Regions from separate parts of the Homo sapiens genome. Here region 1 is linked to region 2. The links come from fine-mapping of genetic effects on gene expression. Tissue or cell type: whole blood. Region 2 holds a variant in brackets; the other region holds the start of a gene. All regions are shown on one strand. Distances are between the middles of the regions.

Region 1 (8,095 bases), 160 kb after region 2:
CATGGATATGTCAACTCTCATAGAAATTCAAAAGTATCTTTCTATAAAGCTCTACCAAGTTCTAGGCAAAGAGATAAAATTTATGTTCCCAAACCTGTTTATATAGTTAATTGTGTTTATGCTGTGCTTGGTAATTTCCTTATCAAGATAATTAAATGTTTCAACATGAGTTGCCTCATTGAAGAGGTAATGACCAACATAAAAATACATGTTACTCTCAATCAACTTTGACTATTCAAAACTTTTGTTTATACAATGGATTTGGCCAACTTAGACACAATGTGTGCTATGAAAAGTTAAACCCAATTGACTATGCTTTAAATGTTTCTCATATGCTGACACAGAGGGATTATGTTGTTTGTGAACAGATATATTTTATTTAAAACTATGTGTTTGATGATCAGGCACAGTAGCTCACACCTGTAATCCCAGGACTTTGGGAAGCTGAGGTGGGCGGATCACCTAAGGTCAGGAGTTTGAGACCCACCTGGCCAATATGGTGAAACCCCGTCTCTACTAAAAATATAAAAATTAGCCAGGCGTGGTGGTGCATGCCTGTAATCCCAGCTACTCAGGAGGCTAAAGTAGGAGAATTGCTTGAACCAGGGAGGTGGAGGTTGTAGTGAGCCGAGATTGCGCCACTGCACTCCAGCCTGGTAACAGAGCGAGACTCCATCTCAAAAAATAAAAAAAATCTATGTGCTTGTTGCTTAGTCTTCATTTGTAAACAAGAAAACTTTATTAAATCTCTGAGTGAGGTCTTCAGTCACAAAACAAAGTAAAGATAATATATTCTCTTAGAATTCAAATTGGAAACCATGGTTATCTTAGCACCATATGTAAACCACCTGAGGTATATGGTATATATGTATGTTTTATGTGTCCGTCTGTATGTGTATAGACATATATAGTCAGCCCTCCATAACCATGAGTTCTGAATCTGTGGATTCAACCAGGCTCAGATTGAAAATATTCAAGGAAAAAAAAAACTATGTTTGTACTGAACACGTACAGATGGTTTTTTGTCATTATTCCCTAAACAATACAGCACAACAACTATTTACACAGCACTAACATTGCACCAGGTATTGTAATCTAGAGATTATAGTCTAAGTATTATAATCACAGAGACAACTTATATATGGGAGGATATGTGTAGGTTATATGCAAATACTACACCATTTGTATGAGGGACTTGAGCATCTATGGACTTTAGTATCCAATGGAGGTCCTGGAACCAATTCCCCACTGATACTGAGGGAATATGAATCCATGAAACAAAATCATATTTTCTAAGGCCCTAGACATTTCATGAGTTTTTTTTAAGTCTGGGGCAAAAAAAAAAAAAAGAAAAAGAAAAGAAAAATTAATAACAACAGCAGCAAGCAGAATCTACATTTCATGAGCGCAAATATTTTTGCTGGTTTGTCTGCTATATCCCCAACACCTAAAACAGTGCACAGCACACAGCAGCTACGCAATAAATATTTGCTGAATGACGGAAGGAAAACTATTCCTGAATGCTTACTGTATGTTCAGGACTATTCTCAGTGCTTTACACTAATTATCTCATTTAGTCATTACAACTCTGTAACAGGTATTATCATAATCCCCATGTAGAGAAAAGGACATCAAGGCACATAAAATGGTTAAGCTACTGCCCAGAATTATTCTGCTAGTAATGGTAGCATAGGGATAATAAATATAAAATCTGAATATTAACAATCAAAGCTTTAAAACATCATTACACACATAAAAAAGAAAATATCTGGAATTTGCCTGATCTTGCACTGTATTTTCAGAAAAACATGAAGATCTCCAAATACATGTAAACAACATGCTCTAACTAGTACTCATTAAATTGAAACCAAAGGATTTATTGAGAATCTACTATGCGCATCACTGGTTTAGGATCTCATGAATAAAAAGGAAGTATAGGTTAAACATCTCTAATCTCAAAATCCAAAATCTGAAATGCTCCAAAATCAGAAATTTTTTGAGTGCCAATATAACACTCAGTGGAGACACTCATCAGAGCATTCTGGATTTCAGATACTCAGATTAGCAATAGTCAGTGAGTATGTATTCTGCAAATATTCCAAAATCCAAAAAAATCTGAAATCCAAAACACTTCTGGTTCCGAGCATTGCAAAGAAGGTATACTCAACCTGTATATGTCATAGTCCTCGTACTCAAGTTTTACATATTATTTTGTTAACCAAACGTTGTATATGTTAAAATTAAGTGAATTTAAAATAAATAAATATACTTTCCAGAAAGTATTTCACTGAATCTTCAGTATTTCTATTCCAGGACACACTTATCTGAGGAAAATAAAAATAATATACCTGGTTCAGTAAGTAAAGAATCTTTGTAAGAATATGCAAACATCTTCTTGGATTGATTGGAGTTTCATTGAATATACGAGCCTATGAAAAAACATAAAAAACATTGCTACTTTTCTACCTTTTCTATCACAGATTATAGCAAATCAACTTTAATACAGACTATTTTTAATCACGGTATCCAAAGAACATTGTCTATAGTTCTCAATTTACTAAGGTATCTGATAAATTATTACACGTGGCCTTGATTTTCCATCCTATACTTTCTCATTCCCTTAGGTTGACTACTTCAACTTTATGGGCTATACCAGTTAAATAAGGATCACAATACTTATCTATATCATACTAATACAATGAGATTAATACAGATAACTGATTTCAATAACCTTGCACTAAACACCTGTTCTTACATTTAAAATTCCCAACCTGTGACAGTCTTCATGTCTTTGCATTTCTATAAGCTCCAAATTCTCCTGTGACAAGTAACCCCTCTTTCTTTTCCCTCAAATCTATATTCCCTAAACTCTGTTACGTTTCTTGTTTTGCATGTCGTGATCACAGCAGCCCAGGGATTCTCTGCCCACCACTCTAAAACAGAATAGAAAAGAAAGGGCACAAGATACTTCCCAGTCATACCTCCTGTAAAACAGCACTCTTCTCCAGATGCTGGAAAGGATTGGAGCCACTACCTATTTATAAAACAAAACAAAAAAATGTCCTGAACAGCTGTTCTACACAAACTTATATACTTTCCAGAGAAGGGTACTGAATGCTTGGGAAGTGAACACTTGGATGGCACAGTGATAATCATGGCTAATACGCATACGAACTGAATGAAATCATTTTGATCCCGGCTCTGTCACTGCCATACTCGAAGAGCTGAGACTTCTCTTTCGCAGCAACCCTCTCCAAAATGAGTGTCTTCTTTCCCTGCCCTCTTTTTCCATGAATGTTAAAAATGTGTCATTTCCACAACAACGAAGATTAATGAGATTGTAGTAGGGTGCTTTTGATTTCCTTAGGTAAGCAGTATTTTATGTGTTTCTAACACTTAAGGAGAGGCAGAAACGAAGTTTCCCAGAGAATCATGCAGGCGTAAAGGTGCAAGAGGCCATGGAGGTTGACTAACCCAACCCCCTCTCACACTGTGGGAGATGCTACCAAACACTGAGAATTTTTTTCTTTTTGAGGATGCTTGGCATCTTCCCCATTTGCTCTGGACCAAAGACGGGCATCAAGACGCAGGTCACTTCTGGACACCTGAGCATTCAACGAGCTGTGTCCCACGGGACAGTCTTGCCCCCGGGGACCTGGACAGAGCCGGTGACCCCAGGAAAACGATAAGGTACCAGGCACCTGAACGTTCCTCCACACACACCCTGTGCCGTCGACCCCAGCCCCGGGAACAGGGTGCTCCCACTAGGGGTCCGACCCTACCAGCACCCCTGGACGCGGAGACGCGCGCACGCCCTCGGCCCCCGCCGGAGGCCCGCGCGCAGGGGAGGAGGCGGCTCGGAGGGGCTGCGCCGCAAGAGGGGCGGGAACGGGGCGCGCGCGGGCGCCGGGGCGGGAGCGCGCGGCCCGAAGGGAGGCTCCGGCGCCCGGGGGAGGGGCTACGGGCAGGCCCCGGGCAGCCGCGAGGGGAGGGGAGGGGCCGGCTCCAGCTCCGGCCCCCTGGCACGGCGGCGCCCACGCCCCCAGCCCCGCCGGCCTGAAAGCAGGTGGCGGCGGGCGGGGGAAGGGGCGTCCCGCGGCTGAGGGTGGGCCTCGGAAGCCCCGCGCGTACCAGACTCCTCGTCCTTCTTGTCGAATTTTTTAATCATCTTGGACGACTTCCCAGCGCCCAGACCCACCGCAACCGTCCCAGGCGCCGCAGCCGGCGAGCGGAAGAGGCTGCAGGAAGGCCGGCCCCGCGCTCTCACGCCGGTTGGGCCGCCGCGCCTTCACTCGGGGCCAAGGCCCGCCCTCCCCGGCCGCCCTCGGCCCCCGGGACGCAGCCACGCCCCCTTCTCCTCTTGCGGCCCGCCGGAGACTTCGGCTCGACCCTCCCGGCTTGCGACCCGGGAGCCCACGCCCGCAGCAGCAGGAATGTGGTTTTATTTGGGTGGCGACTTCTGCGGACCCCTCAGTCTCAAGAGAGCGAGGCGGGAGGACTGAGGGGTCTGTGTTCACCCGATGACCGTGGCCTTTTTGATAATCCACTGCGGGGCCCTCCCGTTGCGGAAGGCGCTCTCCCCGGGCGCGGTTCTGGTGGGCATGTCTTCCAAGAGCGATGCGAGTGTCAGTGGTTCCCGAATCACTTTGGAAATTGGCCTTTCACTCGCTGACTTCTTGGAAGCTACGACAAAGCACAGGCACCCTGGTGAATGTGGCTTTTCAGAAGTACTCGAAGGATACTTAATGTGAGATGTAAAGGAGACGCACTTGGAGGGACCAGAGGCTGGTCTTTAGAGGGTAGATTTTGGACCGTGTAATACCATTCCCAACCTATTTTATAATTTTTGGATTCCTTCATTTCATCAAAACCCAGTGGAAAATTCATTGCCAGTTTAGAGTCTTCCTTGTTCAAGCCTATTTCTTTCAATGATTCCATCTGAAACCATATTGACACTTAAGAAACTCACTAAATTAACGTGCATTCATTCCTAACTCATGTTCCTCTTTTTCTCAGAGTGTATGCTGGCTTTCTGTTCTCTTGTCTAAGAGTGTAGCTAAGAAACTTTGTCTGCCTTTGGCTTCACTGGCATAACTTGTTTAGAAATGTAAATTGGGTCTATACTCAACAGGATCGTGCCCCTGCAAAATTAGAGAAATTCTAACCTAGATTACATTCTACATCCTAGAGAAATTCTTTCCCTGAAATACAGATTTAAGATGAACTGTTGATATCCTACATATGGTATCATTTAAGATTTAACTCCGACTTGACTAAATGTACTATTAACTACTATGTTTGCTTTATATGGCTTGTAAAGGTCAAGTCATACTTTGTAGGTGGAGTTTTCTTTGAAGGAAATAGAAGTCTGCACTCATTTATTCTGGGGGTGAAAATAAACAGGCTTTGGGGAAGGAAACATCCTCTTCCTCTTCCTTGGCCCAAGGGTATTGGGAACCTAGGCAGAGACAGTGTAGATAATAGGCCCAGAGGTTCTCAAGGTGGGTAATGCCCCGGAGACCTGCTGAGAAGTAGAAGGACCTGAGTTCAGATTTGGGGCTGACCCTAAGACTAGCCCCTTGTAAAGCAAGATCAATCATTCTCTGCTGTTCTTCAGCTTTTCTGTATATCTATGAAGTTTTGTTTAATACCACAGGTTGTTTTTAGCTGTGCAGTATTTACGGAGTTAAGAGCATCAGTAGGTGGAAATGGGATGGGATGTGGTGGCAGATAGGTATAGCAGGAGCAGAGAAGCCTGAAGAAGCCAGTTAAGGGATGGTATAATATGACCCCAGGCCTTCGGTATCAGGACTATTTGGACTGAGGATGGCTGGCAGACGGGTTGAGCAATCACTGCAATGGCTTTGTGGGACAGGCAAGGATACCTTAGGGAGTCTCAGGAATTGTTTGAGGAGAGAAACCCAGTAGGAGAAATGGACCTTATCTTAAAACCATGAGCTGGTGAAGTCTGAGGACCCACCAATTATATATATCTAATACACAAATGTGTACTCAGTGCCCTGAAATTCTTCATTGGGTCCAAACTGCCTACTGGATAAAACCCAAACCTTTATTTAAATAATATTTAAGGCATTGTGGTATTTTCGATTTCTTGTTATTGTTGTTTGTTTGTTTTTCAGACAGGGTCTCACTCTGTTACCCAGGCTGGAGTGCAATGGCATAATCACAGCTAACTGCAACCTTGAACTCCTAGGTTCAAGCAATCCTCCTTCCTCAAGCCCCCCAAGTAGCTCAGACTACAGGTGCATGCCGCCACACCCTGTTAAATTTTTTTAAATTATTTTTTGTAGAGACAGGATCTCACTATGTTGCCCAGGCTAGTGTCAAGCCCCTGGCCTCCAGCAATCCTCCTGCCCCAGCCTCCCAAACTGCTAGGATTACGGACACGCCCAGCCTGTCAAGGCCTTTTATGATCTGTTTCATCTCTTTCACATATTGAAAGTGATATTGTTGGTGCTTGGTAAGTGTCAGACACTTAGTAGGAACCCTTGAAATACTGTTAAATAAATGATAATATGTGAGGAGGATTCTCATTGTACCCTCTGCCATACAACCTTATTCCAAGCCCCTTCTACCCCATTCCCTACCCCAATCCCAGAGACTTTTGTACCTCTAAGACACACAGACTTATCCTTTGGCCCTTTTAGAGCAGTTTTTTCTTCAAAGTATAATATGCATACCACTGGGTGGTTCTAGGTGGTACATAGATAAACATTTTAAAATTTCATTATTATAAATTTGATATAAGTGTTTCAGAAAAGCATATAATTTGTACATCAAAACCATGATATCAATGATATAGTATTAATTAGGACAAGATTTTTTAAAAATCCTTTTAAAAAATGCTAAGTAAATTAACAGCAAATAATACATCAATATGGCAAAAACTATTAAAGTGCTGGGTGATATAGCTTAGTAAACACTGCTAGAGCTTTCTTGAAATTTGAGGATTTAAACAGGGTCCAGAGCTTTGCACCTTTTGAGCCTCTATTTGTTGTTAACTTCCATGCTATAGGGAAAAATAGTCTCCAGGACTACCACGAGAGAAGCCAGTTTGCCACATCTATAATCCTCATGGATTGTATCTCCAGCCCAAATCTCAGTCCAGTAAGCCTTTGCTTTGAAAGAGAGGAGCTTACCATCTTTCCTCATATCTCTCTCATGGACTGGAGCAAAGGTGAGCTGAGGGTACATTTTCTTCTGTGTCCTCAAAGCGTAGACTTTTGAATACTTCCCTTCGCTCTTGAAATCATTGTCAGTGGAAAACCTTAACAAAGAAAGTTCTTTGTTTAGTAGATCCTAGGGCAGGGGGATTCATGGAACTATTCACTTTATTTTATTTTATTTTATTTTATTTTATTTTATTTTATTTTATGTATTTATTTTGAGACACAAGTCTTGTTCTGTCACCCAAGCTGGAGTGCAGTGGCATGATCTTGGTTCACTGCAACCTCTGCCTCCCAGGTTCAAGCGATTCTCCTGCCTCAGCCTCCCAAGTAGCTGGGATTACAGGCACTTGCCACCACGCCTGGCTAATTTTTGTATTTTTAGTAGAGACGGTTTTCACCATGTTGGCCAGGCTGGTCTCGAACTCCTGAGCTCAAGTGATCTGCCCACCTTGGCCTCCTGAAGTGCTGGGATTACAGGCATGAGACACCGCGCCCAGCCCCACCATTCACTTTAAAGTTGGCTACATTCTCAGAGAAGACAAGACAATGATAGGAGCCTGTTGATTGGTGCCAAGTAGGAATATTGTTCCGTGACAAGGGATGCTTCTGAACTTAACACTGTAAACCTTTGGAGGAACTCCAGAATCTCTTCTGTCCTCTCTAAACTACACATAGGCTGCTCTTGTAAGTAGTTTCACATAAAACCTCTTTTGTCTAATGTGTTCTCATAGCACATGGTTCCTGTGATATAGCGCCTAACTTGTATTGAGGGTACTTTTTTTTTTTTCCTGTTTCTTCAAAGCACAGACCTTGGAATATTTCCCCTCAATCTTGAAACCATTGCCAGTGCAAAACCTTAGTTTTGCATGACTGTTTCTCTTTGATTCATGTGTCAATGAGGTTAG
Region 2 (8,107 bases):
AAACCTGCATCAGTGGGGAGTGCAAGGGAGACGTTTCCATCATTCCATCTGTACTCAGCACTGTGTTCCACATTTTCCAGTTAAACACACATGCCCTGTTGTCTGGGGTAGTGGTTCTCAAAAGCAGCCTACAAGCGGGTCAGGAAGGCAGTCTCACAAAGCATGAATGTAAAGTCTATTCCACGCTGTGGGTTACAGCAGTACAGAAATGATAACATGGGCAGACTGTTTCTCTATTGGTATGAAGAAAGCAGCAGAGAGGTACTTTTGGGGGCTTTTTGCCATGCCTATCAAAGGGGCCTAAATGTTGAAAAATAAATATTTTGAGAACCACTGCTGTAGGACCTGACCAAAAAAAAAAACAAAAAAAAAACCTGTGGTAAAAAGCATACAGATCATCAGATTAACATTGACCAATCTCATCAGCATCTCAATACTATCTTTAGATTGTGGACTGATGGCGGGTCCACAGATCACCAGAGAGAACTTGCTTTATCTGTCAACCTTCAGCCTAAAGTGAGTAGGTCAGTAATGAGTTTCTAGTATTGGTAAAGTCAGTGTCTTAAATGGAAAAGCAAGTGGGCAGTTGTATGTTTTCACACAAGTGGTGTTAAGTAATAAGAAATGGAGGTGGGGGTACATTTTTGGAAAGTGAAGTCTTTATAAAAAGTAAAGACAGTATTTTCTGAAATGTTTGAAGGAGGGGATTTAGCAAGCAGGGATGAAGAAAAGGCATTTAGGATCTTGTCTATGGTCTGGAAAAAGCTTATAGGTACAAAAAATATTAGATATTGGGAGAGTTAAAAAGTTATTTGGGGGATAGGCAAGGAGAGGAAAGAACAGGCTCAGATGTGAAGACCATATACGACAGATTGGGTAATAAGACTTTCATCTGCTCAGTCTTGACTTTAAATTCCATCCATTCATCCATCCACACATGTAGTGACTGTCAATACATGTTGACATTACACGTAAAGGTATAAGCTTATGTGCCAGACACTTGGATAAAAAGATGACTGAGACATGATCTCTGTCTCTAGGAGCTGTCTAGGAGTTAAATAAGTGTGTGGGCTGTGTGTGTGTGTGATCTATCTATGACTTTACAACTCAATGCCATAGATCCTTTAAGTTTTAAGAGAGTGCCATGTGAGGGTGCGGGATTAACAAATAGCCTGGGAAAACTGTAAAAAATGTGAAACGATATAATAGTTTAACTGGCTCTCAAAAGATGCAAAAGAGCTTTGGCAAGCAGAGGAAGATGTACAAACAGGCAAAAGGAAAGAGGCCAGAAAGTCCACCGGGCAGCTGGAAACAGTAAGAGGCATGCTAATGCCTAGGTGCTGAGAAGATAATTTGTTTAGGAATAAATTGTAAAATACCTTGTATTTCAAATGATTTTCCAACAGGCTCTGGTGAGCTGAGGCAGTCAAGAGATTGAAAGGTTAGAGATAAGCTAGATAAGGTGCCTAATTTAAGCCACTGGTGGGGACTATGAAGAATGGGTCTGAATTCAGAGAGCAGATGGATTCAACAGAATATGCTGAAAACAGACGATGGCAGTGGGTTTTCCCATATAGGAAAGAATGAACCTATCAAGCCTGCAGAATCAATTTCAATGCCATTAGGGGTTGAGAAAAGAACGACTGTGGTTTAATTAGGATAGGATTTTCTTCAGAGAGAAGGGGAAAGAAGTGAAAGTTAACACAAGGCCAGAACAGGTCAGGTGAGGCATTTTTTTTAAACCATGAAAGAGATACAGAATATGGTAGGGGAAAAGGTCATGATCAAGTTAGAATGAAGAGTCAGGAGAGACATTAATTATAGCAACCCAGTGTGGTTCCAATTAAGCAGAGAGGCTACAGCAAATGAGGAGGACAAAGAGACAACATCAGGTATGAAGGCAGATCACAGACTGGGCACAGGGGCTGAGTTTTATGTGGAGGTAAAGACAGAAGACACTTACATATAAGGACCTGATACAGAGAAAGAGATTAAGGAAGTAAATAGGAATGGTGTTAGTAGAGATAATGTTCCTGAAACCTTAGTGGGAATTTTTTTACTTAAATGGTTTGATTGATACAATGAGAGGTTACAGGGATCTAAGGAAGTCTAGGCAGTAATCTGTCGAAGCTGCTGGAGAGGATGACGAAATGGGGCGAGGAGGCAAGATGCGGGGGCCTTTCCATGGCAAGAAAATACTGAATGCACTGCCATAATGTAAATATGAGAGTTACACAGACAAAGCAAGGCAAATACCAAAGAGAATCAGGAAAGAATGCCCTGAAGATCTGCATTAAAACTGTTCTCTGAAATTAAGCTTGTCTTGTGAGGATTCACTGAAAATGAGAGTCAACCACTAAGGAGATTTGTATGAAAAGAACCCAGCGAATTAGAGAAAAGATAGATGCTGGCAGCTAAGACAGGAGAGGGACATGTGAGTTGGGCCAGGGTACAGAAAATGCAGTGTGGCAAAGGGCAGAGTGGGAAAGGTGGGAGGGAGCTGCCAGGTCTCAACCACCTGGGGGAGACCATGACAAAGTAAGAGACACTTATGAGGTATTTCCAGAAAGCTTTGTTAGAATAATAATTAAAGAAAAGGGTATGTCACTAGGGCAAAAGATTAGAAAGAAGGCAAAAGAGATGGATCTGTACAGGCTAACTGCAGCAGTCTATGCAGGTCTGGACTGAACTGAGAAGCAATGGGTGCAGCATAGTGTGTAGGACATCGAGGAAAGCTGGGCAGTGAGTGCCAAAATAAGCAATACACACCTACCTGGAAAATCGTGTTGAGTCTGTGGGAATGCTGTACAAATGGTGGGAGGGAGTTTTTCTCTAGGACAAATTCAGAAAGGGAAGGAGGAATGGTACTGGAAAGCAACATTAGAGTTGTCCTCAGATGAAAAGGAGTTGGTCACTAAGGAATGACACACATCAACAGGAAGGTAAGACAGCATTGCTGGGCCAAAAGTCATAAGAGAGTATGAAATAAGAGACTGGAAGCAAAGGAAAGAAAATATTACATAAGGAAGGGCCTACTGGCAGAGCAGGTGTGGAATAAAGATTTAGAATGGGGTATCCTGTCTAGGTCTAAATGGTCGGCTGCATGGGAAATACACAGAAAGGGTTAAGGAGCAAGGAATTCAGTAGGAGGCAGCAGCAGACTAGCTCTTAAAGCTTTTGAGGGAATGGCTAATTAAAGGACTTGCTTGATAGGAAAGTTATAAACTGATGAATGCTGATAAAAAGCTATAGATGGGCCGGGTGCAGTGGCTCACGCCTGTAATCCCAGCACTTTGGGAGGCTGAGGCAGGTGGATCACCTGAGGTTGGGAGTTCAAGACTAGCCTGGCCAACATGGTGAAACACTGTGTCTTCTAAAAAAAAAAAAAAAAAAAAAAAAATACAAAATTAGCCGGGCGTGGTGGCCCATGCTTGTAATCCCAGCTACTTGGGAGGCTGAGGTAGGAGAATCACTTGAACCCAGGAGGCAGAGGTTGTGGTAAGCCGAGTTGGTGAGCCTTGTTAACTCTCCTTGTTAATACACAACTCTCCTTGTTAATATACAACTCTGACAATTTAACATGAGCCAAGCCCCATTGCACTCCAGCCTGGGCAACAAGAGCAAAACTCCATCTAAAAAAAAAAAACAAAAAACAACAAAAAAGCTATAGATGGCAACTTTAGAAATATTAGGCTTGATTTATTAAGAGAGTGTGAACATGTAGTTTGTCCAGAGAATGGATTATTGCTACTAGATGGGGAATGGGTGATTATGAAGAGTGAAGTAAAAAAGTCTATATCTATTTCTGTAGAGATGGTAAGGCCGGGTGCAGTGGCTCACACTTGTAATTCCAGCATTTTGGGAGGCTGAGGCTGGCAGATCACTTGAGGTCAGGAGTTTGAGACCAGCCTGGCCAAGATGGTGAAACCCCGTCTCTACTAAAAATTTTTGTAAAAATACAAAAATTAGCTGGGCGTAGTGGCACATGCCTGTAATCCTGGAGGTTTCAGTGAGCCAAAATCACGCCACTGCACTCTAACCTGGGTGACAGAGTGAGTTTCCGTCTCAAAAAAAGAAAAAAGAGAGAGATGGCAAGTGAAAGGATGACTGACAGTTAAGATATCGTAGACTATTGCACAGTGTTCCACTGAAGTTGCCTAGAAGTTACTCTGCTATGTGAGGATTGGCTAAAAGTGACAGACATTTCCTAGGGAAACATGAATGAAAATATCACAGGGGAAGAGAAAGAGAAGATGGAGGCTGGAAGCTAAAAGATGAAAAGATGTAGGATTTAGGCTGGAGTGTGGAATATAAAGTGTGGGTAGGGGCTGGGCACGGTGGCTCATGCCTGTAATCCCAGCACTTCAGGGGACTGAGACAGGTGGATCATTTGAGGTCAGGAGTTTGATACCAGCCTCGCCAACATGGTGAAACCCCATCTCTACTAAAAATGCAAAAAGTAGCTGGGCGTGGTGGCAGGTGCCTGTGATCCCAGCTACTTGGGAGGCTGAGGCAGTAGAATCACTTGAGCCCGGGAGGTGGAGGATGCAGTGAGCCGAGATCAGGCCACACTGCACTCCAGCCTGGGTGACAAGAGTGAAATAATTCTGTCTAAAAAAAAAAAAAAA[A/T]AAATATATATATATATATATATATATATATATATATGTGTGTGTGTGTGTGTGTATATATATATATATATGTGTGTGTGTGTGTATATATATATATACACATATACATATATATGTATGGGTAGGGAAGGGCATTAAAGAGGGCCAGAATGAGGAACACCAGAAGATGGCAGAGCTGCATATGCAGTAGAGAGATGTGAGTTAAGCTGGGTTACAACCAAAGAAGGAAAGAGAATACAAAGAGTAAGTAGATAAATAAGAACTGGTGTCATGAGGAAGTGCCATCTGGGAATCTTTGCTTGAATGATGTTTGAAGCAACAAGTGTGACCAATAGAGTGAAAGGTCAAGGAGTTTAAATGGAATGGATTCTTGCCATAGGCAGTGGCAGGAACCCTATGAAGGTCTGGAATGAACTGAAAGTGCAAGTGTTTTCAGAGTAGTGTGGAGGTGACGAGGAAGAAAAGACTAAATTCATGAGAATGATACACAAGATGATAGCTGAAAAAACAAGTGACTAACAGTTGTTCTACTAGGGTCAACTGGGGAAAATAGTGGAAGAGCCTGCAGAAGAGACGGAGTCATTTGAAGATTGGCAGGTATTGACTGGAGGGATACGGCCCCATAAGTGTAAGATTAAATAAGGAGAGACTGGAAACTGTGTAAAGGGAGAACTATACAAAGAGTAGGTAAGCGTAGGTGGAGTGGCATGGACAGGTAAAATGAGGAAAGTGTTTCCCAGAATGGGAAATCTTGTAAACCCTTAAAAAATGTGGGTTTATTCAGTCAAATGTTGGCTCTTAATTGCAGACTTTGAAAAGCAGTAGATACAATGGAAGAAGAACAAGTGCTTGAAAAGTAATGCGAAGCTTTTGTGAGAAGTTTAATGAGAAGGATTAGAAGGAGATGGATTAAGATGAGCCCTAATAGGGCAGCACTTAAAGACACCAGGATAGATCTTTGAGTAGTTTGTAGAATGGATGACTAATATTGGAAGAGGAGTGGCTGGAGATCATGTTGGAAACCCATCTCAAGGGTGAAACTTCTTTGTTTCCAGGTACAGATGGTAGATGAAATTTTACTCTATATAATTAAGGGAGGGCAAATCACCAAAGGGGAGAAACAAATGAATATCATGTAAGTGCGGTATTAAAGTTACTCTTAGAAGTTACTCTGTCATGTGAAGATTTTCTACAGATGAGAGACAGACACTAGAGAGAATTTGGCTAGGAAGTGCCATTCAGGAGGAGACAGAGTCCATCTGAATGAAATATGGACAGCAGCTAAAAGAAGGGAGGCTGAAGATAAGGTAGCGTACATCTTTAGGGCAAGATAGGTAACAAGGAGAAAAGGAATAGGAGAAAACATTAAAGTTGACTCCAGATGAAAAGGTCATTTGAAGAATGGCAGGACTGACTGGAGAGACAGTCCCATATTTGGGCCAAAAGACATGAAGAGGGGTTAAAGCTAAGGGGAGCATTAAATAAACTAGATAATGATTCTGAAAAGGTGGCGTGGTAATAAGAAAGACCACAGCGCCATAAAGATGCCTGGAGAATCCTGCCAGATCTCAGAATGGGCCCAACTGGCCAAATTCAGTGGGTGTAAGGCCAGATTGCAGTGACTAGTATATGGGAGAGAAGGAAAGACCTGAATAGGAATGAGTCAGTAGACTCGCTCTTGATGCCTTAGTGGGAGATTTTTAATTAAAGGGCTTGGTTGAGGGAGAAGTTGAAGAGCAATGCTTCTTAGAATGTGTTACATGGCACTATCTAGGAATCTGTTAGAAATATGAATTCTTTTCCCCTCCCCCAGACCTAGTCAGTCAGAAACTCAGGGTGCATTAATCTGTTCTCACATTGCTATAAAGAAATACCTGGGACTGGGTAACTTATAAAGAAAAGAAGTCTAATTGGCTCAAGGTTCCACAGGCTGTACAGGAAGCATGGCTGAGGAAGCCTCAGGAAACTTACAATCATGGCGGCAGGTGAATGGTGGGGAGCCAGCACTTCACAGGAGAAAGATAGAGAGTGGGAGGAGGTACCACACACTGAAAACAGTCAGGTCGTGTAAGAACTCTATCACAAGAACAGCACCAAGGGGATGGTGCTAAACCATTTATGAGAAACTGGCCTCATGACCCAGTCACCTCCCACTAGGCCCTACCTCCAACACTGGGGATGACAGTTCGACATGAGATTTGAGTAGGGATACAGATCCAAACCACATCCTGGGGTAAGGCCCTGCAGCTTGTTTTAACCAGCTGCAGTTGGAGAACCACTGCTTTAGACAAAGGCAGGCTAGGAACAATTCTGATAAAGAGCCTCTGCTAGCAACTGTTGTGTTAGGGTCAGCTGAAAATTAAAAGAAGCAACTGAAGAGACTTGAATGAAAGGAGAGGAGAGATGGAGAGAATGGAGGTGATGGAGGGTACAAAAGGGAAGGGATAAATGAATGAGGCTGGAGGCTGAACTTGCAGCACAGTAAGCAGGCCAGTGAGGAAGGGCACTGAAGCATGACAGGATGAGGAATACTGGGACAGGGAGAGTAGCAACTCTGGTAGAGTGATTTTATGTTAATCCAGTCACAGCCACTCAAGTAGACAGAGGAAGGAGAGAACGTGGCTAGGTAAGAATTGAGGTTATGAGGGGTCACTGTTCAGGAAGCTGTGGATCTCAGATCCAGTGTGCAGTCTGAACAGTGAGTGTTGAGTGTGAGGGGTCTGTTTATCCAAAAGACAGTACTGAATCTATGGAACTGACATACACAGTCTCTGAATGAAGGAGGGATACTGAATATAGTTTTTATAAGGCAAAATAAAAAGGTGTACAATAGTGAAGTTAAAATTGCTTCCAGACGAGAAGGCATCACTTAGTATTGACCAAAAAAAGTGTCAATGATACTAACTGGAGGTATTTGGCACCATACTTGGGCGAAAGGTCATGATGGAAAATAAAGAAGCCAGGTTAGATGCTATCTAAGGGGAAGGGAAGGCTTATCTGAAGAGTAGAAAACTGGTTTTGAATGAGGGAGACAGTGGGGATATGAGGGGAGGAAACCTCAAAAAGAATATGTATCCATCACTATGAAAGGTTAGGCTATACAGGGGAAGCCTCCAAAGGGAAATCTGGAAAAATGTTCTGAGAGGGACATTAAGGATGTACTCAGAAATTAAGAAAACATATTAGGACTTGCCAAAAGTGAGAGAAGCAACTGAGGAGACTTATATGCAAAAATCGCAAAGAAGGAGAGAACAAAAGATGGAGGTTGGATGCTAAATAGGGAAAGAGAACGTGTGAATGAGGTAGGGGGCAGAACATGCAGTGCAGAAAAACAACAGATATGGAAGGGCATTAAAGAGGGCTAAATGGGAATATTAGGAAATGAGAGTTGGGAATTTGTCAGAGTTGTGTATTAACAAGGAGAGAGTAAGGTAAGAAGGTGGCAAAGTAAGAGCCAGGGCATAAGGTTTTGCTGTCCA

What was found. PIP is the estimated chance that this variant, and not a neighbour inherited with it, causes the effect.
Region 1: it holds the start of COPG2, and the variant in region 2 is fine-mapped to the expression of COPG2 in whole blood (INTERVAL, PIP above 0.99).

The regions. Positions count from the first base shown.
Region 1 is chr7:130,664,501-130,672,595 of GRCh38, forward strand. It overlaps COPG2 (coat protein complex I subunit gamma 2), which reads right to left and starts at 4,248. Exons shown (of 24, transcript NM_012133.6): 1 at 4,132-4,248; 2 at 2,982-3,034; 3 at 2,349-2,429. The coding sequence starts at 4,168. TSGA13 (testis specific 13) reads right to left here. Exons shown (of 8, transcript NM_052933.4): 7 at 7,161-7,288; 8 at 4,143-4,683. The coding sequence ends at 4,514. RefSeq lists an enhancer at 3,451-3,560 and silencers at 3,831-4,420, 4,511-4,620.
Region 2 is chr7:130,508,678-130,516,784 of GRCh38, forward strand. All of the region lies in intron 20 of COPG2 (coat protein complex I subunit gamma 2), which reads right to left. Among named protein-coding and RNA genes, the nearest start is that of MIR335, 17 kb to the left of the region's middle. The variant A/T (reference allele first, on the strand shown) is at 4,629.